Regions from separate parts of the Homo sapiens genome. Here region 2 is linked to region 1. Evidence: fine-mapped expression QTL. A gene starts in region 1. The other region holds a variant in brackets. All regions are shown on one strand. Distances are between the middles of the regions. Region 1 holds the start of PLEKHF1 (pleckstrin homology and FYVE domain containing 1). Region 2 holds the start of LOC107985345 (a long non-coding RNA gene).

Evidence for each region.
Region 2: its variant is fine-mapped to the expression of PLEKHF1 in tibial artery (GTEx, PIP 0.90).

What each region holds. Positions count from the first base shown.
Region 1 is chr19:29,658,219-29,673,768 of GRCh38, reverse strand. It overlaps PLEKHF1 (pleckstrin homology and FYVE domain containing 1), which reads right to left and starts at 8,308. Exons shown (of 2, transcript NM_024310.5): 1 at 8,264-8,308. LOC105372353 (a long non-coding RNA gene) reads left to right here and starts at 8,514. Exons shown (of 7, transcript XR_935896.3): 1 at 8,514-8,562; 2 at 9,562-9,737. RefSeq lists enhancers at 4,745-5,054, 7,201-7,250, 7,871-7,990, 7,442-7,995, 7,996-8,549 and 1 more and a silencer at 8,071-8,740.
Region 2 is chr19:29,719,029-29,734,578 of GRCh38, reverse strand. It overlaps LOC107985345 (a long non-coding RNA gene), which reads right to left and starts at 10,446. Exons shown (of 3, transcript XR_001753891.3): 1 at 10,296-10,446; 2 at 9,501-9,556. RefSeq lists enhancers at 3,668-3,717, 3,838-3,887 and a silencer at 5,848-6,042. The variant A/T (reference allele first, on the strand shown) is at 11,403.

The DNA of each region.
Region 1 (15,550 bases):
ACCACGCTGCCCACCCCCAACTGACTAACCCACCATGCCAGGCAGCCCACTGACTACGCACAGTAACCCGCAGGCCTGCCCAGCACTGAGAAGCATCACCTCGGAAGCTGACCCTTAGACGGGAGTACAGGGAACTACGGGGAGGGAAGGGGGATTTCCCAGTAAAGGGGATGTGGAGGCCAGACAGGGATGGGAAGGCAGTGATAAAGTGTGCTACTTAGGCCAGGTGCAGCGGTTCATGCCTGTGGTTCCAGCGTTTTGGAAGGCTGAGGCAAGAGGAGGCTCGAGCCCAGGAGTTTGAGGCTACAGTGAGCTATGATCATGCCACTACACTCTAGCTAGGTGACTGAGTGGATTCTATCTCTTAAAAAAAAAAAGTGCTACTGAGCCGGCTACTACTGTGGGCAGCAGAGGGCAGAGGTTCAGCCCCGCTGGGGAGCCTTGAAAAACAGGGCGGAACAGGCCTCAACGGGACATCAGAACGGTCTGTGCCAGGAGACCTGGGTGTCTCTACCCCCAACCCAACCCTGACTCTGCCATCCACCAAACCAAGCTGTCACAGGCCCTGCAACCCACGCAACCACCCAGGAAGTGCAGCAGTCACCACCACCATCACAAGCACAGGCGCCGAGTGCTTCCTGTCAGCCAAGCGTGACTATCTCATTTAGTTCCCACCCAACCCCAGAAGGCAGAATCCCCACTTTACAGGAGGGGAACTGAGGCGATGCTAGGAGGCAGGGGCCCTGGAGCTCGCACTATGCTGCCGTCCCGAGTGGAGTGTGAGGCCACACAGGCCCCTCTGTTGGTGCCCTAAGCACTAAGCACTAACTCAGAGCTCATGCCGGGCGCCCCCTGCTTGGTCCACACACACACCAGCCCACCAGACTCACGACCTTGAAGACCCCATAAATGCCATAGATTCCCCATTCCAAGCCTCCAGTCTTGGCCTCTCCAAGCTCTAGGAGGGCTGTCAGCATAGATGTTCACCTGCTTGTCTAATAAGCTCCTCAAACTCAACACATCCAACAACAAACCTCCGCAGACCTGCACCTCTTCCTCTCCTTCAGTGACACCACCATTCATCCAGGAGTTCAAACCCCAGACCTAGGACACATCCTTGAATCTCCCCCTTCCTGTACCTCCAATATTCAAGCCATGAGTAAATCTCATCATCTTTACCTCTCAAATCTAGCCTGCCCATTTCTCAGCACATAACTCCGCCACCATATCGGTGGCAAGGTGCCATTGTGTCCTACCTGAGACAGGCTGTCCCAGGGTCAGCTCCTTCCTGCAACGGGTTCTCAGTTCCTTTTTGAAAGGGTTCTCCCTGACAACCCCAGCTCAGGCAGCCTCTTCCCACACCCAGGACAAGCATTGGTAATCCAAGGTCTGAGAGTCAAATCCGGCCCTCAGCCTGCTTTTGTTAAAGATTTATTGGGACACAGCCACATTCGTTCATTTATTATTGTCTCTGGTGGCTTCCACACTGCAATGGGAGAGTTGAGTGTTGGTGACAGGGACTACATGGTGACAAAGCCTAAAATATTCACCACCTGGCCCTTTGTAGAAAAGGTCTGCTGGCCACTTCTCTGGGATTCAATCGTTTTTCTTTGTGGGATTTAACAGGACCTGCTGTTTGCTTGTCTATTCATTGCTTGTGTGTTTTCTGCTTCCCTGCTCAGTTCTTAGCTCCATGAGAACAGGAGCTTCTTCTTGTTCATTGTGTCCACAATTCTTGGAGCCATGCCAAGCACATACTAGATGCTTCATAAGTAGCTTGGCACGGTTCCAAGCAGGTCCCAAGGCCCACCATGCATGACTCAGCTCTTACCTCTACAGAGGAAGAGGTGAGAGCTGGCCCCACCACCACCACGTGCACACATGCATTCCGGTACACACGGCACGCCTGGGGCTGAGCTGATCACACCCATAGTGTTTCTGGGTCACTGAGCTGCAGTTCTGAGCCTGGCCACCAGTAGAAAGCCAGAGTGGGGCCCCAGTGTGAGGGTGGATGCATTGCAGAACAGAAGATGCTGGGCCCTCGAGTCCCGTTCCACTTGCCCCTGCAGATCACAAGTGTCCTGAGAAGGGCTGCCCACACTACCTTACGTAAGAACTGCTATTTTTAGCTTGCTGATCTTGGCTGTATACTGCAAACCTAGGGGATTACCAGTGACAGAACTGACCTGTCCCACCATGACTGATCACCGAGTACCTGGCTGAGGGACAATCTGACAAAACCAGAACTGCATTCCACAAAGAGCAATGACTGCCCAGCAGAGACAACCAAAATGCCTACCAGCAGGGAAAAGGATAAAAACCCGGGGCTACTCACGCAATGAGAGATACAGATCAATGTGGTCTGACGGCAAACAACAAACGTGGAGTGGAAAAACACAGCCTGTAGAATGTTGTATGTAAAGTGACACCACTTATGCAGGAATTACATAACATTCTGAAAGTGTTCAAGAACTATATCTATGAATAAAAATAGGTAGGAGGAAGGCCGGACACAGTGCCTCACACCTGTAATTCCAGCTACTCGGGAGGCGGAGGCAGGAGAATCGCTTGAACCCAGGAAGCAGAGGTTGCAGTGAGCCAAGATGGCGCCATTGCACTCCAGCCTGTGTGACAGAGTGAGATTCCATCTCAAAAAAAAAAAAAGGAGGGGAAAAAAACAAAACAAAAAATAAATAACAAGTGTTGGTGAGGGTGTGGAGAAACTGGAAACTGTGCACTGCTGATGAGAATAGGAACTGGTGCAGCCCCTAAGGAAAACAGCATGGAAGTTCCTTAAAAAGTTAAAAATACTCACGCCTGTAATCCCAGCACTTTGGGAGGCCGAGGAGGGGGGATCATGAGGTCAGGAGATCTAGACCATCCTGGCCAACACGGTGAAACTCTGTCTCTTAAAATACAAAAAATTAGCCTGGTGTGGTGGCGAGCGCCTGTAGTCCCAGCTACTCGGGAGGCTGAGGCAGGAGAATGGCGTGAACCCAGCAGGCGGAGCTTGCAGTGAGCCGAGATCGCGCCACTGTGCTCCAGCCTGGGCGACAGAGTGAGACTCCGTCTCAAAAAAAAAAAAAGGTTAAAAACAGAACTACCATATGATCCAGCAATGCCACTTCTGGATATATATCCAGACTGAAAGCAGGGACTAAAATAAATATCTGCTTTCCCATGTTCATATCAGCATCATTCACAATAGCCAAGAGGTGGAAGCAACTCAAACGTCTGTCAATGGGAGAATGGATGAACAAAATGTGGAACATACATACCATGGAATACTATTCAGCCTCGAAAAGGAAGGTAATTCTGACGCACACTACAACACGAATGAGCCCTGAGGACATCATGCTAAGTAAAGCAGGCCCATCACAAAAGGACAAATACTGTAATAACTTATATGAGATATACATACTGATCAAATTCATAGAGACAGAAAATAGAATGGTGGTTGCCAGGGGCTGCCAGAAGGGGAATGCGGAGGTTGTCTGGGTATGGAGTTTCAGTTTTAAACGATTAAAAAGTTTTAGAGGCCAGGTGTGGTGGCTCATGCCTGTAATCCCAGCATTTTGGGAGGCCAAGGCGGGCAGATCACTTGAGGTCAGGAGTTCGAGACCAGCCTGGCCAATATGGTGAAACCCTGTCTCTACTAAAAATACAAAAATTAGCCAGGGATGGTGGTATGTACCTACAATCCCTGCTACTGAGGAGGCTGAGGCAGGAGAATCACTTGAACCTAGGAAGTAGAGATTGCAGTGAGCCAAGATCACACCACTGCACTCCAGCCTGGGCATCACAGTGAGTTCCGTCTCAGAAAAAAAAAGTTTTGGAGATCTGTTGCACAACAATGGGAATATACTTAACACTACTGAACTGTACACTTGAAAGTGGTTAGAATGGTAAAAATAAAAGATAGGAAGGAGAAAGTCAGGAGTAAGTAGCCTGGGGAGAGGACATAGATGTGACCAGGAATGGAGGGCTCAGATTGGATTCCACTTTCGTCTATAAGGTTTCATTTTTAAAAAAGTTTTTTTAAAAAAAGGCAGCAGCAAACACGATGAAATCCGAATATCTGCCAATTTCAAGAAATGGGAACACGTGTTGCTTCTTCTAATTTAAGGTCTTCAAAAGGAAAAGAATTACAGGCCAGTGTCTGGATTGGGTCCTGGGCTCCATGGGCTGGGGGCCGCTGAGCATGTCTCATGATGGGACGCCTGGCTGGGCCTGATAGGGTGACCACATGGCATCCAGGCCTGGGCACCTGCAGGGGATGTCAGGAGCCCCGAAGAAGCAAGGCCACGTGTGCCCCCAGCCCAGCTGTGTGCTGAGAAGTCAGGCCACTGGTGAAACGGGATGAAAACCCAAACCTGAGACTGCAGACCAAAGCCTCCACATTCAGTAGCTGAGGCAGGTGGGCTTTGTGCCCAGAGAGCAGGTAGCCCTCCCGCAACCCTGGGGGCTTGTTGAGCTCTGGAGACTGGGCCAGCCAAGTGGATGGCATGGAGGAAGGGAAGGAGCAGCACCAGGCAGAAGAGAGCTGCAGGCAGGGGTGCCCAATCCACCCTGGACCCGTCCAGCAGAGGGCAGAGTCCATGACGCTGTCTCTGCAGCCCTTGGAGGGGGTGCAGAACACTCCACATGGGACCCCTTTGCTGCTCTGCCCCCACCCATGACTCACAGACCCCCTCTAGGCTCTTAGGGCTAGTGTCCAGCTGCTGATGGTAAAATGTGGACCAGGAAGGGCGAGGAGGGGCATCTGGTGGCGATGAAAGGGGCTGGGCTGAGAGCTGACCCCACACACTGACTGGGGAAGCCAGGGGCTCACATGTGCCCTCCTTTGTGAACCTGCAGAGGGTCCCAGGTTGGGCGAGGGGCGGGGCAGACAACATCCTCCTGGGAGCTGCCCCGGCATGCTCACCTTCTCTACATGACCACAACTTCACATCCTGGTTTGACCTTGCCTGTAGGTTTTTCTTGGCAAATACAGCAGCCCTGAGTTAGATGGGGAATGCTTTTTTCTTTCTTTCTTTTTTTTTTTTTTCTGAGACATTGTCTTGCTTTGTTGCCCAGGCTGAAGTACAGTGGCACAATCAGGGCTAACTGCAGCCTCGAACTCCAGGGCTCAAGAAAGCCTCCCGCCTCAGCCTCCTGAGTAGCTGGGACCACAGGCATGCACCAACATGCCTGGCTAATTTTTAAATTTGTTTTAGAGGCGAGGGTTCACTCTGTTGCTTAGATAGGTCTTGAACTCCTGGCCTCAAGCAATCCTCCCTCCTCAGCCTCCCAAAGTGCTGGGATAGCAGGTATGAGCCACTGAGCCCAGCTGGGAATCCTTTTTTTTTTTTTAATTGTTCTCACTAGGGAAGTGAACCTCCCTTGCTTAGCACAGGGGAGAAAAAAGCTGAGCCCTGTCCTTACTCATTTGGGGCCGGCCTGCCTCGGGAAGATGTTGGTGACAGAGCTTCCTGGCAGCCTCTGGGCCCTGAGTGCCTGTATTGGCCCCAGTGTGGCCCCAGGGCTGCTGGTAGAGGGGTGACCCCAGCGCAGGCTCAGTAAGCCTGGGAGACCAGGCAACGAACAGACCTGCATCTTTCTTTGAGGGTTCAGAGGGGTGGGGGCTCTCAGGCTCAGCAATCCTGCTGCCTGCACAGGGGCTGGAGGTGCTCATGTGAGCACTGCGGCTTGGGAGCCACATCCTGAGAGCCCCCGTGTGGCTGCAGAAGCCATGAAGCCAGGTTCTGTATGTGGCAGCCCAGGTGTGATACGTGATCAACAGCAGGGGCTGGAGAGCTACACCAAATCTGGGCCACTGCCAGCTTTTCTAAATCCAGTTTTATTCAAACACAGCCATGTGGGACAGAGGCTGTATGGCTGGCAAAACCTAAACTATTTGCTACCAGCTCTTGAGAGAAAAGGTTAGCCAACCCCTGATCTACACCATGCCACATTGTAAAATGTATAATGCACACACTGCAGGGCACGCTGAACAGGCCACACAAGGTACTGTCCTGACGGGAGTCGTCCTGTCCTCTCTCCTACTCCGGACACAGCATTTTGGATAAATGAGAGATGCGTGGGGCCCCAAGATGGTAGCCCTGGAAAGTAGGAGCTGGGCAGCGGTGGGGGATGGGGTGGGGGCTGTAACTGCTCTGCCTCGGGTTACAGGTGGAGAACCTGCTCAGGGACGTGCAGGGCCAGGGTCACCAAGGGAATCAGAGTTCTGGGGGCAGCTCAGCCCTTTGGACTTTCCCTTGACTTCCAGATCGGGGCTCCTCCTTCCCTGCAGGGACCTGGGCCGCACGCAGACCCACCCTGCTTCCATGCCTGCCTGATTTCATTTTCCAAATATTTATGAGTCCCACTGTGTGCCAGACACTGTGCGAGGTTACAGCCGGGAGCTGGAGACCAGGCCCTTCAGGAATGCACACTTCTTGCCAGTGAGACTAGAAGTACATTCACAGGGTCTTTTCTGAGAGCCAGTGCTAAACACTGTGAAGAAAAAGACTGGTGCGCCCAGCAGGGCAGGGCCTGGGAGGACGGTGGAGGTCGAGGAAGGAAGGCCTTGGGAGGAAGTGAACTCACTCCAGCCTGAAGTCAGCTGTGCAAAGATCTAGGGGCAGAGCTCCGGTCCTGGGGAGCAGCTCAAGGTGGAATGGGTGAAGTCAGGCTGCGGAGGAAGGAGCGATGGGGCAAGGAGGACAGATGAGGTTGCAGTGCCGGCAGGAGACATCCTGCAGGCTCCCAGGCCAGCGTGAGGATGTGAGGTTTTCTCCATGTGCATTGAGACTGCAGCATCAGGCGCCAAGCCTCCTCTCCCTCCAGAGGGGCCGCCCCTGGGCTCTGTCCAGCCCTGTGATTCCTGGAAGGCCCTCCTCCGGGAAGAGACCGGTAATGAAAAACAAAGCAAAACAAAACTGGAAGTGCCGCCGACTGAGCACTTAGAGCTCACCAGGCACAAAGTTAAGCATATTACGTTCATTATTTCACTTAATCCTCACAAAAGCCCCCTTGGGGAAGGTACTTCCACCACATCAAAGTCACTGCCCAAGGTCCCTGCTGAGTGATCAGGAAGCTCGGCTCCAAAATAACCATGAGCTGTGGAAAGCTGCACTCAACCAGAGACCAAATCAGAACTCCAGAAGTCAGAGTCCAGCGGGTGTTGCCTGCGCTCCAAATGCCTGATGCCCACCCCATCCCGAGCAGGTCCGTCAGCTTGGCTGGGCTGTCCCACCCTCCAGGCCACACTGGCCAATCCCCCTTCCTTCCTCGGGGTGGGCTGGGTTGGGCAGGTCCCCTAGTTCACCCAGGGCTGCCTGGCCTGTGTTTTGGCAGCCCGGAGGGCTGACGTGTGCAGGGACGCAGGCCGAAGTCAGAGAGTCATCTCAGCTCACAACAGACTCCAGTGGGAACGACGCTGTGCAGAGGGACGATCCCAGCGCATTAGGGGACTACCTCCCCACCTCCTTGGCCTCTGACCCTCTCTGGCCAGGAGATACCAGAGGTGTTCAAATTCCAAAGGAGTGCTCCCCTTGGGCTGCAGAGATCAAGTTTCAGCGTGGCTCGGAACCTCTCTGCTTTCCCACCTGCAAAGAGGCTGACCACACCTCTGCCCTACACGGCCCGCCAGGTGTTGGGGAAACGAGAAAGGAGGGAGATTCCAGGCCGCCTCTCTCTGCGGGCCTGCTCAATAGTTTCCTCTCTGAGATGGGAGCAGTGCCCGACCCTGTTTCCCTTGGCAGCTCCCACCAAGAATCACAAACTCAACTGCTCCAGAGGAACTGGGACCCCAGCGCCCCCCGCCGCGCCCCTGCCCAGGGGGACAGTGGTCCCATCCAGGCCTCCAGACTGCAGACTGGGGCTGAGAAGAGAGGTCCCGGCGGCCACACGAGGCCAGGATCCCGGAAACACCACCAGCGACCGGGTGCGCTGAGACCCCTGCAGTCCCGGGTGGCCCGCGACCCCCTTACCTCCACCAGCTTACATCTGCGCGTTTCCCCGGGGATTCCGCCTCGGACGCTCTGACCCCTGACCGCTCTCCCCAGGCTCCCTGCAGGTTCACCCCGCAAGCCGCCCAGGAGCGCCCTTCCCAGGCCTCTTCTTGGGCTGGAGTCAGCGGCACTGCGCCCCGCCGGCCCAGGAGCCGCCAAGACCGCGCGGCGGGAGAGAGCTCGCTTGTCCGGGGGTGGTGATGGGAGACTCGCCTCATGCGCCTGCCCCGCGACCCGCAGCCCGGCCGGGGGACGGTGGGGGGACTCACCTTCTGCGCCGGCCCCGCGCCCAGCCCTCGAGTCCACACCGCAGTAGCCCGGGTCCCCGCCCGCTCCGCCCGGGTCCCGGCCAGCTCCGCCGGACACGCCCCCGCGGTGGCTCGGCCAATCGGAGCCCGGGAAGCGGGAGGGGCGGGGCTTGGGCGCGGCGCTCGGAGGGCGCCCGAGCTTGTGCGCGCTGCAGGTCCGGGGCTGGGCGGGACTGTCGCCCGTGTTTGACCCCCTGGCCCCGCCCGGCTTCCCTTTCCGCTCGCCGCTGCCCCACGCGGAGCGCGACTGCCGTCACCCGGTGGGACTGCGACCCTGGCCTTGGGCAGGGGTGGGGTGGGGGCGCCCGCGACTGCGAGACCTGCGGGACTTGGCGGGGAAAGGGGCAGTGGGAGGCTTGTGCCTTCTGGTGCCTCCGGCGGGCCTCACAGCACAGTCACCCTCAGCGGTCAATAATCGTAATATGAAAATGCAGCAGCACTTTATAACCTTTTTTTTTTTTTGAGACGGTGTCTCCCTCTGTCGCCCAGGCTGGAGTGCAATGGCGCGGTCACGGCTCACTGCAGCCTGCACAGAAATCATCCTGACCCCAGGAGAATTAGCCCACCAGGACCGGCTAGTTTTTGTATTTTTGTACAGACGGAGGTCTCACTATGTTGCCCAGGCTGGTCTCGAACCCCTTAGCTCAAGCCATCCTCTCGCCTTGACCTCCTAAAGTGCTGGGATTTCAGTAGTGAGCCACCGCACCTGGCCTATTTTAAGCTTTTTATAGTGGAAAATTTCAAACTGAAGGAAAGAGAATAGTCCAGGGGACCCTGGTGCCCGTCACCCAGGTCCAACACTAGCAGCAAGTTATGTCACCCCTGACTCAACCGCACCTGAGCCTCCTGTGCGGCTCAGAAGGAAATTCCCAGGCCTCAGTGCCCGGAGGCCTTCCTGGCCCTCCCTGGCCTCCTCCCCACAGGTCCTCTCAAATGGGCTTCTTCCTGTTCCTTAAAGCCTCAGGCCTTTGCTTCTACCTCCATCAGACCTCAAACTGTCACCTCCTCAGGGAGGCTGCCCTGGCCACCCAAAGCGGTTCCCTGTCTCCACCCCATCTCCCTCCACAGTCACCCGTGTTTGTAATTTTGCAAAGCATCTCCCAACCCAGAGTCCTCTCCTGAGGCCGCTCGTGGGATTCAGGGCTGCCTACCAGGCTGTGGCTTCTGTGGAATGCTCATAAACAAGTCATGCTGGTGGCTTGCCTCCCACCCAGGCTGTGAGCCCCACGGGCTAGACAGTAATTTCTTCTCGTGTTCAGACAGGACTTTCTTCTGGTTCACCCCTGCATACCGAGTGCTGAGAACGGGCAGCGCATAGGAGGAACGCAGTCCCTACCTGTCACATAGATGCAGGTTGTCTTGCCAAATAGAACTCCACCTGGGCACCCTGAGAGGGGTGGCTCAGGCCGGGGCAGGCCTGCTGGGCCAGGACCAGGTGAGAGGGGAGCAGCGGGGGGAGGGCTGATGGGCTGTAGGGCTGTGGGGCTGGAGCTAGAAGAGGTGCCTGCTCTCTTGGCAGGGGGCTATGGGCGAGGCTGTGAGGTGGGCCCAGTGCTGGAGACGGTCCTCTCCCAGCTGAGAAGGGAAGGGAAAGGGGGTGACGGAGGGGGAGGGAGAGGGGACAGGCAAGTGAGAGGGCCACCAGCTGTGGCCTTGGGGAGCCCCCTCCCCACTACCACTTCATGGCGCCCACCCACTACCGTTGCCCTCATCAGCAAGGACAGCTTTTATGAGCATTCAACAGAAGTCACCGCCTGGTAAGTAACCCTGAACCCCACAAGACCCGAATAATGTCTGTTTGCTTTCAAAGTGTTTAAACATTTTTAAAATGCATTGCTGTGAACATTTCATATGGGGAGAGTTCACATAAAAATCAGGATCTTCAGCTTCTCTTAAATCAGAAGATTTGAGAATGCGGGTCCTCTTTAGAGGGGCCTTGTGTTCTCCCCTCCACTATGGTCCCCACACTCCCTCTGGTTTCCCCCTTGGGGCACTTTACCCCCTTTTGCACCTCCAGATGAATATACGTTTGGGTTTACAAGTCCTGAAGGGGCAGCCAGGCCTCTATACCACAGAGAGCAGAAAACACAAGGTCTGAGATCCCACAGGCAGAGTAATAACCAGGAGGGTCAGTGGGGCCATTGGGATGCTGGGAAACACCATCTCCTGTGTACACACTGCTTGTCACCAGCGGGTGGAGGGGGACTTCAAGCTGAGCCTTCAAGGCTGCGATCCATGACTGCTCAGTGCCAGCTCCGCCACCTCCCTGGCAAGGAGCTGCTTCTCATGGAGGGTAGGCCCTGGCTGGGGTGGAGGTGGCTGTGAGACTTGGAAGGGAGCCAGTCCCCTGGGAAGGCAGGGCTGTCTCTTTATAACAGTGTCCTGGCATCTAACACCTTGTCCGTACAGAGGAGGCCTCGGGAGAAGGAAGCCTTTTCATGACTGGGAAACTAGAGGGAGGATGTTCCTCCTAGCCTTGTCCTGCTGGTGGTCCAGGGCCCACTTGGACCTCAGTCTCCTCTTCTGTCCTTCCTTCCAACTATGGATCTGAATGGCGCTCCAAGAAACGCCCTGGAGGCAGCACGCACTGGTCTCCCAGCTGTCCATCCACTTCCCAGCGGGGCTGGCTGTGCGTGGGGACAGCTGGGTGGAGGGTGGAGGGCCTCGCTCCTCCAAATAAGAGAGGAAAAACTCGTGACTCAGGGGCAGGCAGAAGTTGAGTCAGCCAAGCCACATAGCTGTGGAAAGAATGAGGTTTCTCCGAGGCGTTTGCTACTTCTCAGGAAAGAAGCCCTTTTGGAGGAAAAGCTGGCTTCCAGACTGCGGGAACCCGGGTTTCAGAAAAGCAGTGGGGCTCGGCATTTTCAGGTTAGGGATTCTGGCAACCACCTCTGTGCTCAATGCCAGGAATTTTTTTTGGATCGTTTATTAAGTTCTGTCTACAGGCCAAGCACTGTGTGCTAAACATTTTATGTTATCTTATCTCTTCCCACACTAAAGCTGTCATTCCCAGCTTTCAGTATAAGAAACTGAAATAGGCACTGAAGTATTTAAGGATGAACACAAACATTCCAGCAAGAGAGAGAGAAAACAAAGGAGGCAGAATATTAGCAATTGGTAAATTGGGGTCAGGAGTCTCCAATCTTTTTCTGTAAAGGGCCAAATGTTAAGTACTTTGGGCTTTGAGAGCCAGGATCTCTACGGCAACTATTGAACTTCACTGTTGCAAAGCAAAAGCAGCCACAAACAATACTTAAACAAGAGAGTTAACGTCATGGACACTGATATTTGAATTTCATGTAATTTTCGTGTGTTATGAAAAATTCTTTAAAAATTTTTTTCCAACCATTTGAAAAAATTAAAAACCATTCTTAGCTCATACAAAACCAGGATGTGGGCTGAAGTTTACCAGTCCCTGATCTCTGGCTATTCGTTGAACTTTTCTTATAACTATTCTATTGATTTGAAAGTTTCCAAAACAAAAAATTGGGAAAACAAATTAAAGAAAAACAAAGGAAACAGAGGTCCTACTGTTTAGCTTGGGTAGATCCTCAAACTGACCCTAAATTTGTCTGATTCCCAAACTACTACATGCTGTGTTCTTTTTAAAACATTATTTTTATTTTATTTCAATTTATTTATTTATTAGAGATGAGGTCTTGCTCTGTCACTCAGGCTGGAGTGCAGTGGCACAATCATGGCTCACTGCAGCTTCTACCTCCTGGGCTCAAGCGATCCTCTTGCCTCAGCCTCCTGAGTAACTGGGACTATGCGCCCATGCAACTTCGCCCAGCTAACTTTTTAAATTTTGGGTAGAGATGTAGGGGAGGCGGGGGGGGTCTCTCTATGTTGCTCAGGCTGGTCTTGAACACCTGACCTTGTGATCCTCCCAGCTTTACCTCCTAAAGTGCTGGAACTAAAGGCACAACCCATCACACCTAGCTAATTTAAAAAATCTTTTGTAGAGACCAGGTCTCATTATGTTGGCCAGGCTGGTCTCGAACACCTGGGTTCAAGTGATCCTCCTGTCTCAGTCTCCCAAAGTGCTGGGACTACAGGTGTGAGCCACCGCACTTGGCCTAAATGCTGCTTTCTTTATAGATACCGTAACATACTAAAGACACTGAGTCTCAAAGCCATAAAATGTGGGGCATTTTGAAAAGATTTTTACTGAAATGGTTAAGAAGATTAGTTTTAAAGGAGGAAACCCAGAGATGTTTGGCAAACTGTGACTTCAAAAGAGAATCTTGAGGGCGGGCTTGCTGCAGGGGCCTTGGATTTGAAGCTGAGATAATCTCGACTCTACGGAACCATGAGATGACACTGACGCCCCCGCACCCACTTGCCCTGCCCGTCTGCCTGTTTATTCTTTTCTCTCTCTCTCTGTGTGTGTGTATGTGCGTGTGTGTGTGTGTGTGTGTGTATGCCCTGCATTTATCATTCCAGCTGTCTGCACATCCACTTCATGTTCACGGGCATTATTGTTTTTGTTTCCCAGCATGGATTTTCCCCTTGAGGCTCCAACCAGGCCAAAGGGGGAAAGGAGAAATAAAAGAAAACAGAAGCAGGCAGGGCGTGGTGGCTCACACCTGGAATCCCAGCACTATGGGAGGTTGAGGCGGGTGGATCACTTCAGCCCAGGGGTTCGAGACCAGCTTGGGCAACATAGTGAAACCCCATCTCTACAAAAATATCAAAAATTAGCTGGGCATGGTGGTGCGTGTTTGTAGTCCCAGCTACTCAGGAGGCTGAGGAGGGAGGATCGCTTGAGCCTGGGAGTTTGAGGCTACAGTGAGCCAAGATCACACCACTGCATTCCAGCCTGGGCAACAGAGCAAGACCTTGTCTCTAAAAATAAATAAATAAAACAGAAGCAATGCTTTTTGAAAAATGCCTTCGAGATGTGAAATAAATGTTGCAGGCCAATATAACCTGAGAGTATTAGACCCACCTAATGTCAATGGAGTACATCCAAGAGGCTTTTGACAGCACTGGTTTGACAAAGTTCTGTCTGGGTCATTCATTCATTCATTCAGCAATTACTGGATCCCTCTTTGTGCCACTACCCAGGCAGTGGATCCAGGGATGAATGTGGCACTGCCTCTACCCTTGGGGAGCTCACAGTCCATTGGGGCAAACCCATGAACACGTCATATTTATCCATGAGGAGAGAAGGCTGCCCACCCCGAGTAGAGGGCAGGGGTCTGTGCAGGAGAAGCTGTCTTGGTTGGATGACACATCTTGGAGAACCATTTGGCATTTCAGTGTCAGCCTTTGGGGTCTGGCTGGCAAATACCTCCTCACTTGCTGCATTTAAGGCAAGAACAGAAATTCCAGGGGCCAGGAACAAGCAAGCCAGAGAGAGAAAAAGTCCAGCACATGGCGTGAGAGAGGGCCAGGGAGGCTCTCTGGTTGTGGAATGGGGCTGGGAAAGGCTTCAAAGAACAGGGATGGGTGATATTCCATGTTACTTTTTATTCTTTTTAAAATTTATTTTATTGAGACAGGGACTCGCTTGGTTGCTCAGGCTGGCTTACAGTGGTGCAATCATAGCTCACTGCAGTCTTGAACTTCTGGGCTCAAGTAATCCTCCTGCCTCAGCCTCTTGAGTAGTTGGGACTTCAGGTGCACGCCACTACTCCCAGCTAATTTTTAAATTTTTTATTGAGATACAGGTCTTGCTATGTTGCCTAGGCTGGTCTCAAACTCCTGGTCTCAAGTGATCCTCCTGCCTTGGCCTCCCAAAGTGCTGGGATTACAGACATGAGCCACTGCACCCGGACAGGTGATATTCCATTTTTAATTACTTACTGAACTGCCCAGGGAATGCCCTACATTTTGGCCATTACCACCCAAGCCTTCATAAATCCATTTTCTTGCTGGTGAGAGCATAAATTTTTACAACCAACCTTCATGGGGGGCAATGTGGCAACATCGATCAAATTTTAAAATGTACAGACTTGGCCGGACACAGTGGCTCACACCTGTAATTCCAGCACTTCAGAAGGCTGAGGCAGGCGGGTCACCTGAGGTCAGGAGTTCGAGACCAGCCTGGCCAACATGCGAAATCCCGTCTACTAAAAATACAAAAATTAGCTGGGCAAGAGCCGGGTGCGGTGGCTCATGCCTGTAATCCCAGCACTTTGGGAGACCGAGGCGGGCAGATCATGAGGTCAAGAGTTCGAGACCAGCCTGGCCAACATGGTGAAACCCTGTCTCTACTAAGAATACAAAAATTAGCCAGGCGTGATGGTGCATGCCTGTAATCCCAGTTGCTTGGGAGGCTAAGGCAGGGGAATTGCTTGACCCCAGGAGGCGGAGGTTGCAGTGAGCTGAGATCGCACCACTGCACTCCAGCCTGGGCAACAGAGCAAGACTACGTCTTAAAAAGAAAAAAAAATTAGGTGGGCATGGTGGCGGGTGCCTGTAGTCCCAGCTACTTGGGAGGCCGAGGCAGAAGAATTGCTTGAACTCAGGAGATGGAGGTTGCGGTGAGCCAAGATCATGCCACTGCACTCCACCCTGGGTGACAGAGTAAGACTCTGTCAAAAAGAAAAAAAAAAAGCACAGGCTCTTTTTTCTCCAGCTGGTCCACTTCCAGAATTTATCCTTAAATACTCCTGTCCTTGTGCAAAAGGATATAAACACTCATTCATTTATTGTGGCATTGCTTACAGTAGGGAAATGCAGGGAGCAGCCCTAATATCCACTGACAGGGGCCGGCCAAAGAAATTACGAGTCATTCATACAATGGAATGGCTTCCCACAGTTTCAGGAAATAAGGCAGGTCTTCATGTCCTGAAATGCAAGGATTTCTAGGATATACTGAGTAAAAAAAAGTAAGGTATACAAGTGGACGCATAGTGTGAGTGTGTGAGAGTGTGTGTGTGTGTGTGTGTGTGTATTGCTGGCAGAATTCACAATAAACTGGTCATGGGTTTGCCTCTGGAAGGGAAAATGGGTGGGAGGGAGATTCCCATTTACTGTATACACTTGTGGTATTTTTGTTTGTTTTGTTGCTGTTGTTTTGTTATGTGTGTGTGTGTGTGTGTGTGTGTGTGTGTGGTTTTGTTTTTGTTTTTGTTTTTGTTTTTTGAGACTGAGTCTTGCTCTGTTGCCTTGGTTGGAGTGCAGTGGCACGATCATGGCTCACTGCAACCTCTACCTCCTGGGCCCAAGCAATCCTCCCACCTCAGCCCCCCAAGTAGCTGGGATTACAGGTGCACACCACCACACCTGGCTAATTTT
Region 2 (15,550 bases), 61 kb before region 1:
ACCAACAGAGCACTTACGGTCGTCTCTGATTTATTGGCAGGGGATTTGAACAACACTGCCTCAAGCCAAGGGGTCTGTTTTACAGCAAAGAAGCTATGGCTCCAAGGTTCCTCTGGAAGCAGCAGGCCTACAAGAACATCAGGATGACCTGTGCCAAGGCTATGCCAGGGTGAAAGCGTGAGCCCACACCCTGTATAATTGGGATACTATCCTTGAAACTGTGGTGTACGTGCCTTACCAAGAGCAGACACATGGTGCTATGATCCCAAAAGCAGAAAGACATGGGGCTGGAAACCCAGGGGGTGGCGGGGGGAGTGAGATCGGCTGCTCTCACCATCACTCGCAGAGACCACCTTGAGAAATGTGTGCTTCCTGTGTCCACAGCTTTGGGTGGGGCTCTAGCAAATTCGACGTCTTAGTTCTTGATGGGGGAGGAGGAGCGGAGAGTGGACTCCTCCACCAGGGAACATCACCAATTCTACAGAACTTGAAAATACAAATACTCCCTGGTCCTCTTGGGCTTCTCAAGTCAGTGGGCCAGAGGCAATTAGCAACAATTAGGATAACGGAGTTTCTACATGCAAAAGAATGAAGAGGTAGCCCCTACATTATACGGTATAAATGTTAACTCAGCATGGATCAATGACAAACATCAGAACTCTTACAAGAAAACATATAGGTAAATCTTCACGACCTTGGATTTGGTAATGGATTCTCAGATACGACACCAAAAACATGAGCAAAGAAAGAAAAAGAGACAAATTGGAATTCATCAAAACTAAACACTTTTGTGCATGAAAGGACATTATCAAGAAACTGAAAAAACAACCGATGCAATGGGAGAAAATATCTGCAAATCATATATCTGATAAAGTTTTAAAATCAAGAATATATAAGGAACTCCTACAACTCAATAACAAAAAGACAACTCAATTAAAAATGAGTAAAGGATTTGAACAGATACACATCCAAAGAAAATATACAAATGACCACAGGAAAGTATACTCAACATCGCTAAACACTAGGAAAATGCAGATCAAAACCAAAATGAGATACCACCCCACACCCATTAGAATGCCTGCTATATATTAATAAAAGAAAAATGAAAACACGATAAACTAAAAATAACATGTATTGATGAGAGTGTGTTGGTAAGAAATTGGAATCTTTGTGCACGGTTAGTGGGAATGTGGAATGGTGCAGCCAGCCTGGAGAACAATATGGCAGTTTCTCAAAAAATTAAACATAGAATTAACATAGAATCAGCTACTCCACTGCTAGGCATATACCCTGAAGAACTGAAAGCAGGACTCAGAGACATCCATGCTGATGTTCACTGCAGCATTATCCACAAGGGCCCAAAAGTGGAAACAAGCCAAGTTGCCATTAACAGGTGAATGAATAACAAAATGTGGCACGCCTTGTACATACAATGGAACATTATTCAGCCATAAAAGTGCATGAAGCTTTAATACATGCACCACATGGATGGACCTTGAAAACACTATACTATGTAAAATAAGTCAGTTTCAAAAGGACAAGTATCATATCATTCTACTTGTTTGAAACATCTACAAGAGACAAAGTAGCAGAGAAAGTAGGCTAGTGATTACTAGGGGCTGAGGGGAGAGGGGATGGGGAGGTGTTGCTTAATGGTTACAAGGCTTCTGTTTAAGGCAATTAAAAAGTTTTGGAAATACATAGTAGCAATGGTTGTCCAGCAATGTTCATATAACTCAGGCCACTGAATGAACATTTAAAAATGGTTAAAATGGGCTGGGCATGGTGGTTCACGCCTGTAATCCCAGCACTTTGGGAGGCCAAGGGGTGGGTGGATCACCTGAGGTCAGGAGTTTGAGACCAGCCTGACCAATATGGTGAAACCCCGTCTCTACTAAAAATACAAAAATTAGCTGGGCATGGCTGCGTGTGCCTGTAATCTCAGCTACTCCGGAGGCTGAGGCAAGAGAATCGCTTGAACCCAGAAAGTGGAAGTTGCAGTGAGCCAAGATCGCGCCCCTGCACTCCAGCATGGGCAACAAGAGTGAAACTCCGTCTTAATAATAATAATAATAATAATAATAATAATAAAATGGTTAAAGTGGCACATTTTATGTTGTGTGTATTTTACTGCAATAAAAAAAGTACTGATTAAACTGGCAGGAGAAACTAGTTCTGATTATTGCAAGGAGATAGAGTTGTTTCTCCATGAGGGATGGATGAGTATGTTTGGGACTCAGGAGAGTCACTGGGCTGTCTCTTAGTATCTTATTTATTTATTTACTTATTATTTTTGGAGACAGGGTTTTGCTCTGTTGCCCAGCTAGAGTGCAATGGTGCAATCACGGCTCACTGCAGCCTCAACCTCCTGGGCTCAAGCGATCCTCCCACCTCCGCCTCCTGAGTAGCTGGGACTACAGGCATGTGCCACCACACCTGAATAATTATTTTTCTTTAGAGATGGGGTCTTGCTCTGTTGCCCAGGCTGGTCTCAAACTCCTGGGCTGAAGTGATCTGCCTGCTTCAGCCTCCCAAAGTGCTGGGATTACAGATGTGAGCCACTGCGCCCTGCCTTCTTGGTGAATCTTGAACCTGCAATTAGATAAAATAGGCAGTCACAGCAGCCAAGGGCCAACCAAGACAAAGCTCAGGAAAGACTCAGAAACTGCAGGGGGGAAGGTGTGGTCACCTCACCTGGCACACAACTTAAACAAGCCAAAGTGCTGGCCAAGAGTGAGGGACATCTGGAGTGGTAGGTGCAGGAGGGAGACGATGAATAGCAACTGTAGTTTCATTCACAGTAGGATTTCCGCAGGCCTCCCCCTTGAAGACCTGGTGACAGGTTGGATTTGATGCAGGGCATGCCTGAGTCTCAGCGGTCCAAGAGGGAGATGATCAGACAATCACGGGCACCGCCTCGCATCCTCCTGGCCTCCGCTGATTCAGCTATGGCAGTGGTGAGCAGTTTTGTGCAAGCTTCAGCTCATTTGGGCCTCACAGCACCTTGCCTCAAGCATGCTGTTTGCTTTGGCCCCAGGGCTTCCTGAATGCTGTGGCATGGGATGGCAGAAAGAGCCCATTCAGCATGCAAACATATGTTCAGCCCGAAGGTACGGGGGTTACCGTTCCCAGGGAACTCTCAGCAAATGGGGGAGAGGCAGAAGATTCTGAAAGGTCTTCTGTCTACTCAGCAGTCCGCGTGGGACCGAGCCCTGGGTGCCTGTAGAGGGGACCAGCCTTGGTAATCCACCCTTGTGTTGGCTTGTCCTTCACTGTGTCACCTTCCCTGTTTCCTCATCCTGCTTCCTAAAATTGCCTCCAAACTCCACCTTCCCTCAGAGAAGGACTGAAGTAGGTAAGTGGAATTTAGTATCAGGTTTGTAAGGGTGAGATCGCAAAGTACTTAAGATACAAACACAAAGTGTCTATCCTACAGACCTGGGCTCAGTCCTTTTTTTTTTTTTTTTTTTTTTTAGACAGGACTGGAGTGCAGTGGCGTGATCTCGGCTCACTGCAACCTCTGCCTCCTGAGGGTTCAAGCAATTCTCCTGCCTCAGCCTCCCGAGTAGCTGGGATTACAGGCACCAGGCTAATTTCTGTATTTTTAGGAGAGACAGGGTTTCACCATGTTGGCCAGGCTGGTTTCGAACTCCTGACCACAAATTATCCACCAGACTTGGCCTCCCAAAGCACTGGGATTACAGGTGTGAGTGAGCCACTGCACTGGGCCACAGCCAGTGTTGAAATTCCACATAATCACAGACTAAGTTAAAATTTCAAATTAAACATATCTGGATAATTTCATCATAGCAGAAATGGTGAAGGGGTAAATTCTGGCAAAGTGACACGCTCAGTTTGTTAGGTTACAATCGGGAGGGCAGCGTCTTGAACGCGCTCCGGCGCCCATGGTCCCTGGATTTCCTAATCTATAGCACCCTCTAGTGTTAGCTTTGCTTCATGTCCAGAGCTCAGTGGTAAAAGCCTGAAATTCTGCCTCTGCACAAACCATGCTAAGTGGAAATTTGTGACAGAAGAGGCTCCTTTTATTGCTTTTTCTCTAAGGAGAAGTCATCAGGTGCTTAAATCTTTGGAAATAAATTTGTGCCACCTGTATGTTTAAAATAAAGTATCATGCTTTATGCTTCATTTGTTCTTCCAACAAGTAATTGTTGGGGGTCCCTGCGGTCTGCAGAAGGCCCCATGTTGGAGCAGGAGGTTTTAAATGAAAACGCTGCACATTTTCACAGATGAACAGGGAAGGAGGGTGTCACGCCAATGTCCAAACGGGGAAGTAGTTGGCCGGTGCGTGCAGGGGAGAGAGCTGCCACCGTTCCCCCTCAGTCCCACCTCAGAATTCATCATCCTACCTGGCTCGGAAACAGATTTGGGGAGCATAAGCTCTCTTTATAGTTTGCCCCACAATCAATTTCAGTGCATCTGTGCAGAGTGACATGAACTGTCCTAAATGTCTTCTAAAATAAAAAGACACCTTTGCCTCACTCGGGGCTTCGCAGCATTAAATGTACTTGGGTTAAAGGCTTCAGCGTACTCCAGTGGGGGCGCATCTTCCTACACTTTGGATAATTCATATGCATGAGAAGACATCGTCATTTTCGGTGCAGTTCTGAAAGGAAGTATTAAGGGCGAGAATTTGATTTTAAGTGAGGGAAGGGGAAAAAAAGGTGTGAATTTAGCTCCAGACTCTGCAGAGGATGAAAGAAGATGTTATATTTCTGTTTGAGACGTTGCAAATCACTCTAGAGTGCCCTCTGAACTTCTCCCTCAGCCCACCTGTCCACAGAATGGCTGGGATTCACTCCACTCTCCAGGATTTACTGTCACCTCTCCCATCCACAGTCTTTTAGGAACAGACCATCTCAGACAGCCCCTAAAGTTACCGCATGGACAACAAATTGTTCTGCAAAGTGATAGCATAGAATGCACCAAAACATCTTGAAAGAAACTTACTCAAGATGTGCTTGTTTCCTCAAGATGATATTTTATTTGTTTTAACCGGCAGTCTTGTGGGTATATATGTCTATGTTTAGCCAAAATGAAAAATGCTCCTAAAATAAAATCTCAGAAACTTTGACCAGAGTGCTTGTATGTTCTAAGGGGGAAAGAGTGTTGCATAATTCGTTACGGGGGCAGACTAAACCTTCCCTCCACTTAGAAGAGTGGGGCTGGGTGTGGTGGCTCATGCCTGTAGTCCCAGCACTTCGGGAGGCCAAGGCAGGAGGCCAGGAGTTCAAGACTAGCCTGGGCAATACAGGGAGACTCTGTCTCTAAAAATAATTTAAAAATTAGCCAGGTGTGGTGGCATGCACCTGTAGTCCCAGCTACTCAGGAGGCTGAGGTGGGATGATCACTTGATTCCAGGAATTCCAGGCTGCAGTGAGCTATGATTATACCACTGCACTCCAGCCGGGGTGACACAGTGAGACCCTGTTTCTAAAAAATAATTTAAAATAAAACTAAGTAGAAGAAAGATGGGCACTAAGCCTAAAAATTTGACCTCACTAAACATAAGGTGTTAGTTCAGAGCTCTGGACCCCAAAAGCTGTGGCCTGGAGTGGGTGAGTGTTTTATTGTCCCTGATATGGGAAAAGGAGTCCAGGAAGAGGCTGGTCCACAGATAAGAGAGTAGCAGGAGACCCTGTAAGATGCTGAGAGCCTGGCTGGGCCCAAGTAACTCTCAAGAACCAGGAGGTCTCAATATTCCCTTCCAGGCACCTGGTGAGCCACGCCGCTACATTGAACCCTCACTGGCCACTGTAGACCCAACAGTCAAAGTCTGTGGCACCAACACCTTGTGTTATAGAGACTTTGGGGAAGTCCCCGAGAAGGTCTGGAGCTCCCAGTTCATTTGGGCCAGGCACACTGAACAGAGGGAGGGCTGGAGGAGCTGAGGAGGGAGGCGAGGAGGCGAACCCTGAAGAATCAGGCTTTAGAGGCTCCTGATCAGGAGAAACGCACAGGTGGCTCTTACCACCTCTCTCAGCAACCTTTAGAGATTCCGGGCTGGTGTCTGCTAGCTTAAAAATCACTCATTTAAAATAATTAAAAATCATTTAGAAAAGGAGGGCTTTATTTCTCATATAGAGTTACAACCTGCAAGGCAGCCACCCTGACTGGCTAAGAAGTGTAGTCTCCAGTAGAAGCCAATAGGCAGGCACTTTGAGGAAGGGTGGGAGGGGATAAGACAGGAATTCAAGCTGAATGGGTTGGCCAGGTATACATATTCAACGGGATATAGGAAGAGCTATGAATATTCTTGGAAGGAGGCCATACACATGTGTGATAAGCAAACATGCATGTTACACACATCCCATGTTCACCTTGGAGTGGAGAATACACATTTAAGTGTATTACAATCGGGCTGTAGACGTCAAAAGGTGAATCAGGGACATGAAGGCATTGCACAGCCTCTGTAAATGGGCAGAACCAGGCCATGGTCAGTGGTCTCTTATCAGGAGAAAGTTACTGAATCAGCCTCTTGTCCAATCAAAGCTGCAGTTCTGGCTGGTGGAACGAGGGTCAGTTAGTGTCTGGCAGCGGGCGAACTGCAATTGTTTTAATATTACCTATCTCCAAGCCATTGGCTTGTTTAGCTGCTAGAGAAAAAGAAACCCCTTGCGGCAGCTGGAAACTAGTTTATTCTTTAAGTGTAGGGGTGTGTGACTTAACCCTTCCCTGATATGGCCCTTAGGTCCTGGTTATGATTTGGTATCTTACTGTCACAGAGTCCATTCTGCCAGTCTTATGACCTCTATTTTATTTTTATTTTTTAGAGACAGGGTCTCAGTCCATCACCCAGGCTGGAGTACAGTGGCGTGATCTCGGCTCACTGCAACCTCCACCTCCCAGGTTCAAGCAATTCTCCTGCCTTAGCCCCCTGAGTAGCTGGGATTACAGGCACCCACACACCCGGCTAATTTTTGTATTTTTAGTAGAGAAGTGGTTTCACCATGTTGGCCAGGCTGGTCTCGAACTCCTGACCACAGTTGATCCTCCCACCTCAGCCTCCCAAAGTGCTGGGACTACAGGCGTGAGCCACTGCGACCACCATGACCTCTATTTTAACATGAATGCTGCTCATTTGTGTTTAAGCCACAAAAGGGAGTGGGTAGAGCGGGGTGTGTCTGACCTCCCTTCCCATCATGGCTGGGAACTCTGTGGTTAAGTTTCCTCTGGGGTCCCCTTGGCCAAGAGGGGGTCTGTTCAGTTGGTTGGGGGGCGCTGAGGATTTCATCTGTAGTTCTCATGTTTCACTGTAAGTAGACTGAGGGCTTAAATCACTTTTATTTGTTAATGTTAAGGGGGACGTCCATTAAACCTGAAAGACTTGGGGACACCAACAAGGCTGATAGCCATTAGATAATTATTATTAATGACAGTCATTAGTGATACCAATTATGTACCAATCATTCCGGGCATGAGAGCTACAGGGATAAATAAGACATAACAGCCTCCTCCCTTGTGGAGCCTGCCTTCTGGGAAGGGGGAGTGTTGGTATTCCATGAAAGTGTGACAATATCAAAACAGGCACAGTGGCTCACGCCTGTAATCCCAGCACTTTGGGAGGCAGAGGCGAGTGGATCACTTGAGGTCAGGAGTTTGAGACCAGCCTGACCAACATGGTGAAATCCTGTCTCTCCTAAAAATACGAAAAATTAGTCTGGCATGGTGGCGGGTGCCTGCAATCCCAGCTACTTGGGAGGCTGAGGCAGGACAATTGCTTGAACCCGGGAGGCAGAGGTTGCAGTGAGCTGAGATCGCAGCCATCGCACTCCAGCCTGGGCGACAGAGTGAGACTCCTTCTCAAAAAAAAAAAAAAAAAAATCTTATTTTTTGTCTGTTGTTCTACTAACAGGTTTGGCTTGCAGGAAATCTGCAATGCCTGGGACATTTCAGATTTGCAATTTAGGGAGGACCAGGGTGTACAGACCTCCAACCTTGGCACTCAGAGCTTAGTCTCCTCCCTGACTTTCCCTCTTTTTTTTTAAATTGCTTTGTCATCCAGGCTGGAGTGCAATGGCACGATCATACCTCATCACAGCCTTGAGCTCCTGGACTCAAGCGATCCTCCTGCCCCAGCCTCCTGTGTAGCTGGGACTACAGATGTGCGCCACCATATCCAGCTAATTTTTTATTTTTGTAGTGACGGCTCTCTATGTTGCCCAGTCTGGTCTTGAACTCCTGGCCTCAAGCGATCCTCCCACCCCAGCTTCTCAAAGTGGTGGGATTACAGGCGTGAGCCACCAAACCTGGCCTGTACTTCCCATTTGGCAGCACTGTCTCGATAGTATTGTAGCTCTGGTTGCTGTGTTCATGCATACACTTACGTTTTCTTTCTCTGAAAAGTCAGGGATGCCAGAAGGGGACCTTATCTCTCTTGGCTACTGTTCTATTCCCCAGTCTGAAGGGGGAGCTGGCACTGGGAAGGCCCTGAGTCCATGTTTGTTGTCTGGGAATACCATTAAAGGTAACTGACCACTTTTGTTTGCATTGACTAGAAAGACAAGAAATGATGGCTTTAGCTGTATAATACTCTCCTCCTCCAGGCACTTGCAACAGCCCTACCAAATCATATTAATGATAATCACTCATGGTAACCAGTCTCTGAGTTGGACCCAGTGATCCATGCCTACCAGCCTTCATGCCTCTGTGCAGTCCCAGCCACATGGACGAATGTGTAGGGGTGTTGCAGTGATGGTGTGCAACCTTTAAGCCAGATCATGAAGACGCTGTGGCTTCTGCTTGGTTGTTTGGATCCTTCCCTCTGGAGGATGCCAGCTTCCTCATCAAGAGGACATTGGAACAGCCTGTGGAGAGCCCCACATGCTGAGGCACTCAGGCCTCATGGCCAACAGCCCAGCCACATGAGAAAGTGGTCCTCTGGGAAGCACATCACCAGGCCCAAGCACCCCTTCAGATGACTACAGCCTCAAGAGAGGGCCCAATCTAGAACCGCTCAGCTACAGCACTCTCAAATTCCTGACCCTTGGGAGCTGTGAGAGAGGACATTGGTCTTAAGCCACTAAGTTTTGCATTTGATATGCAGCAATAAATAACAACTACAGTGATACTGATGTTGTTCCTTAATAATACCAATTAGTGATGATTTCTTAGTCTTTTTTTTTTTTTTTAAAGAAATGGGGTCTTGCTATGTCTCCTAGGCTGGAGGGCAGTGATGCAATCATAGCTCACTGCAGCCTCAAACTCCTGGGTTCGAGTGATCCTCCTGCCTCAGCCTCCCAAGTAGCTGAGACTACAGGCACAGGCTACCACACCCGGCTAATTTTTAAATCTGTTGTAGAGACGAGGTCTCACTATGTTACCCAGGTTGGTCTTGAACTCCTAGGCCTTCCAAAGTGCTGGGATTACAGGTGTGAGCCACGATGCCAGGCCCCACATTATCTTTTTTAAAAGATGCAATATAAAACCTTAGCAAACAGTGTGCTCGCTTTGCAAATGCAGCTTTAAGAGAAGCCCCTTACCTTCCAATTGCATCGTTGCCCCCGAGTCCCTCCTACGCGGAAATCTGGTGCTTTCACTGTAAGAAAAGCAGGCATAAGAAAGTGAGAGGGTTGAAGTTCTATTTATTGCCACAGTCAAAGGGGGCAGCCAGAATAAACGCAGGGTTTCCGGGGAGTTAGCTGTGGAGCGCAGCAGAAAGGCCGCTGGGGTCTGGCTGGGAGGACAGATTTCCTTGGCGCGCTGTGCAGCCTTCCCAGAGGATGGGAGCCGGGGGGGATGGGGGGCGAATTATTTCAATAATAAAGGAAAGGAAGATTTTTATTTTAGGTCAATAAAACAAAAAACTCGACCATAATTCGTTAATTTTATTGAAATGGCATGCAAATTACTTGATGAAACTTAGCAGAAAAGCGGCTCGGTGCAAACAACGAGCATTGTTTGGGAGCGCGTTTCCCGTTGGTCTCAAATCCACATACAATATTTCCTTAGTGCTTAATTATTTCCCCACTGCTCGCGTCTGCAGGGCTGAGCCCTTTGTCTGGCTCGCTTTGCACGCGGCGGGCAGCAAGTGCGGCGCCCTCCCCCGCGCCCGGCACAGATGGGGCCCCGGGGCCTTTGTTTTAGGGGTGGAGCGACAAGATCTGTAAAGCGGGCGCTCCAGGCTCGGTGCACGTGCTGCGGGCGCGGGGGTCCCCAGGCCACCGTCCCCTTCCTTCCTCCGCCCCATTGTCTGCCGGCGTATGGGAAGCCGCTGCGCTCCTGCCGTGCGAGCGCTGTAATCTTTGAGGTTTCTGCAGATTTGTGGAGGAGCTTACTTGACAGCAATCTCTTGGCGTGCTCAGATCACTCTGCAAGCCTCTGGCACACGCAGGGCCGCCGCTAAAGCAAGGGCCTCTGGTACCCCGGGCCTGCCCCGCGCAGCTCCCCCTGGCAGCTCCTCCAGCAAAGCACCTCAGCACCGAAAAATAAAATCCTACGGCGGGGATTTAGACCAGAGAGGAGTGAGGGTTTGGGGCCTGGCGCCTGCTTGAGCCTCGGGTAGGGGAGGGTCTTCCTTGGCTACTGGGTATGCTGTGGGCCCACGCTGCACCCCTAAATTCCTGACCCACAGGACCTGCCAAAGGTAATCCATCGCCCCAAAGTCACCCTATTCGGGTGGGATCTCTGCTTTCATAACAGAGAAGGGTCCCAGCAAGGGGACTGAGGAATGAATGTGTGCAAAACACTGGTTTCATTCTGAAGTCAGAAGTGTGGTTCCCCCATGCAGCTGGAATTTTGCAGGGACGGCCCGGCTATAAGATGGGTAATGCATGTAGAGTAGGAGGGAGGGCAGACCCCAGAGACCCCACCCCACTGCAGGTGAAACGCAAAAGAATGCCTTGCAGATTCCAAGGTGCCCACTCTTCCCGGCGCTCCAAACTATCAGGATGTTTTCCGTGCTGGAGGAGTCCCTGACATTTCCTCCTCTCTGATTTTCGCCATATTTACAACGTGTGTGTGTGTTTACCTTCCTGGACTTCCCTGCCTTCCAAAGGCGCTCTGCACCCAGTGCAAATGCCCTCACCCTCAGGGCCCTCTCAGGTCTCCCCATCTCTGCCAGCCGTGTGTTAAGCGAAGAACAGAGGCTTGAAGGCCAAGAGCCCTAGATTTCTGTTCTGATTGTGTTACTGACAGTGTGATCAAGGGCAGGTCCCTTCCTCTCTCTATTTTCGGGGTAGCCTAAGAAATCGTCTGAGAACTGGAGGGGCTCTGTCTAATCGAAGACTGTGACTGCGGAGCCTCGGTTCTTTGCAGGGCCCAGAACCCGCCCCTCCATCAGCAGTTCCAGACTCTGAGCCTGGGAGCGTGCATTACCAGGAACATGGAGACACGGTGGCTACACGTGAAGGTGGGTTCTGATGATGCTAGATTGCTGTGGGCAG[A/T]TATTCTGGGACTTCTCAGAGCCCTGAAATCCTTCCTTTGTGGAAAAGTCAACTGGGCCGAAAGTTGGACCTGATGTCCAAGATTTGAGGGTCACCCTTCCCCACGGGTGGGGTCTCTTGGAGGGGAAGACCTTCACTGTTGGAGTCAGCAAGCCCATTCCTGAATCCCAGCTCTGCCTCTAGCAGCTGCGGGTGTCTGCAGCCTCTAATTTAACCAAGAAAATCTCCAGCCCCCTGCTTTTCAAGGTGGAGCTACCACCTGAAATAGGATGTGACCTAGCCTGAATGTGCCTAGAAGTTTCAGCTCCTCTGTTTTCATGATCACTAGTATTAGTGTTTCATGATCACTAGTATTTACCTTCTCAAAATATAGTTTGTCAGCCGTGTGCCGTGACTCATGCCTGTAATTCCAGCACTTTGGGAGGCCAAGGTGGGTGGGTCACTTGAGGGCAAATCGCTTGATGTCAGGCGTTCAAGACCGGCCTGGACAACATGGCGAAACCCCGTCCCTACTAAAAATACAAAAATTTGCCAGAAATTGCTTGAGCTTGGGAGGCAGAGGTTGCAGTGAGCCAAGATTGTGTCACTGCACTCCAGCCTGGGTGACAGAGCGAGGCTTCGTCTAAAAAAATAAAAAATAAAAAGTTAGCCAGGCATGGTGGTACACACCTGTAGTCCCAACTACTAGGGAGGCTGAGGTAAGAGAATTTCTTGAACCTGGGAGGCAGAGGTTGCAGTGAGCCGAGACTGCACCACTGCACTCCAGCCTGGGAGACAAAGTGAGACTCCATCTCAAAAAAAATTAATACCAGGGTTATGGAGACTTCTCCAGCAATAATGAAAGAAATTTTGCAGATATATAGAGACAATCTAGGTGACATTCTTTTTAAAATTGTGTGCACCACAGGCTAACAAACAAGCAAATACCATGGGTGACTTCATTTATGTACACTGGAGCGAAAGAGAACATTCTGCTATAGAACAAAACCTCAAACAGACCAAAGCTCCAATAGAAGAAAAGACAAACCACCCCCACCCCAAATTCAAAGCTGCCTTAAAGTAAAACTAGTGGGAGAAAGAATTTGCATCCTCTGAGCAATTTGAAATAAAAACTTCAGAATCATAATAGTGACTCTACCATAATTTTCTGTAATAAAACATCTATTATAACAGATATGGCAATACAATAAAAGTCCTATTGTTCCAGAAACTGTATTATAACTGAAACAGGATAATTATAGAAATACTTGCGTGAGAATTGCATGTTCAACAGAACCATTGAAAAATCATTCTTCTCAGACTGAAAATAAGTCTTCCAGGCACAGAAGAACTCTTCAGTGAGATCTGAAATGCAAGACAAGGTGGATTTTTTTTAAGTCTTTTATAGCAGCTTGACCTTCTAAAGTCTCGTCAGGGCCATCTGTAAACTCCAAGGCCCCATCAGCCTCCAGCTCTGAGTTCCACACTTTATTTGGAATACTAACATCTATGAGTAGATTTTTAAGTAGGGCATCTCTTTATATTCTTTCAATAGACAGATTTTCGGGTGAATCTTGGCTCTATCGAGTTCATTTGTAAATTCTAACTTAGAATTTTTAGCTTTTTAGAACAGTTGACCTCTGGAACATTTTGTAGAAATCCCATCCTATGTGGAAGGCATTGCTGATAGTACCACCCTCCCTGTTTTATAGTTTACAAAGCACCTTTCAGTTTTTATTCCTCTTTGAATCCTCACAATAATCCCAGGTTGTTGAGAGCAGGGATTCTCATCCTGATTTTGTATTTGAGAAAATTGAGGATTATCTGTTTGGGAGCAGGGGCTGGGGGATTTGTCTGGAAGCTGTGTTTGCAGTGTAAGCATGCTGTTTTTACTTAGTTTGTCTTTTTTTTTTTTTTTTTGCTGTGGCTTTGGGGAAACTGATGAGAATTAGTGAGGAACCAGAGGGCCTGCAAGCCCTCTGTGACAAGTAGGGCTTGTCATCACTACTGACTTTTAATGTCCCATCTTGGGTAACCTGGTACTTGAAAGGTTGGGAACCTGGAGGAAATTCACTGAGTGATGATGGTGGCTGAGGGACTGAGGGAGGGAGCTGGGAGGAAATAATAATAATAATGACAATGATGATAACACACACTCAACATGACAGCAAATATGCAGAGTGGTGCTAAGTGGTGACTAAAGGGACATGATAACCATCTACAAATATTTGAAGGATGTAAACACCAAGGAAGAAGATGAATTAATTATTTAAAAGAACAGTGATGAAGCCTGGGAAGAGATCATTACCAGTCCCCAAGCCACCTTGTCCTTCCACAACCCTTTCAGGATTAAGCTCTCCCAAGACCGAAGGGAGGTGGCAGGATGGTTTCCCTGCACACAACAGTCTTGACATAGGCATGGCCCGAGGCTGTTAATATTTTTTTGAGACAGGATCTCACTCTGTTGCCCGGCGAAGTGTAGCAGTACGATCACAGCTCACTGCAATGCAGCCTCAGTCTCCTGGGCTCAAGCGATCCTTCCACCTCAGCCTCTTGAGTAGCTGGGTCTACAGACACATGCCACCATGCCCGACTAATTTTTAAATTTTTTGTAAAGATGAGGTATTGCTATGTTGCCCAGGCTGGTCTTGAACTCCTGGTCTGAAGTAATTCTCCCACCGTGACCTCCCAAAGTGCTGGAATTACACTAGTGAGCCACCGCGCTTAACCCGAGGCTGTTATTTTTATTTTTTTGAGACGAGGTCTCGCTCTGTCGCACAGGCTGGTGTGCGGAGTGCAGTGGGGCCATCTCAGCACACTGCAACCTCCGCCTCCCAGATTTAAGCGATTCTCCTGCCTCAGCCTCCCGAGTAGCTGAGACTACAGGCGCGCTACAGCACGCCCAGCTAATTTTTGTATTTTTAGAAGAGACGGAGTTTCACCATGTTGACCAGGATGGTCTCGATCTCTTGATTTCGTGATCTGCCTGCCTCGGCCTCCCAAAGGGCTGGGATTACAGGCATGAGCCACCATGCTCAGCCCAAGGCTGTTATTTTTATTGTGCCATGGGTGGACATGTATGTACTATGCACGTGCTCAGATTATAATAATCACAGCTGGCATCTGGTGAATACTTCGTGCTAGGGTTTGCATGTTTCCTTTAAAACTCATGTTGAAATTCAATGGCCGTTGTGGTGAGATAGATATATATTATATTAAATATTATATATAATATTGTATTATATATAATTATATATAATAATATAATATATAATTATATATAATATATAAATACATATTTATATATTTAATATTTATATATTTATATATTTATTTTTTATATTATATATATAATATATAATATAATTATATATAATTTATATATATATATAATTTATATATATATAATTATATATATATAATTTAATATATATAAATATATATAATTATATATAATTATATAATAGTACAATTATATATACTGATATATTATATTATATATTATATAATTCTATATCTTTGTCCAAACTTATATATTATATAATTCTATATCTTTGTCCAAACTTATATATTATATATATTTTATATATATATAAATATATATATTTATATTATATAAATATATATATTTATATTATATAAATATATTTATATATTATATATATAATATATATATAATATATATAAATATATATAAATATAATATATATATAAATATATATAATATATATATAAATATGTATATTATATATATAAATATATATATTATATATATATATAATTTATATATATATTTATATATATATAAATTATATATATATAATTATATATATAATATATATAATTATATATAATTATATAATAGTACAATTATATATACTGATATATTATATTATATATTATATAATTCTATATCTTTGTCCAAACTTATATATTATATAATTCTATATCTTTGTCCAAACTTATATATTATATATATTTTATATAATATATAATATATGTTATATATATTATACGATATATATTTTATATATATATATTTTTTTTGAGATGGAGTCTACCCTGTTACCCAAGCTGGGGTGCAGTGGCATTTTCTTGGCTCACTGCAACCTCCACCTCCCGAGTTCAAGAGACTCTTCTGCCTCAGCCTCCCGAGTAGGTGGGATTAC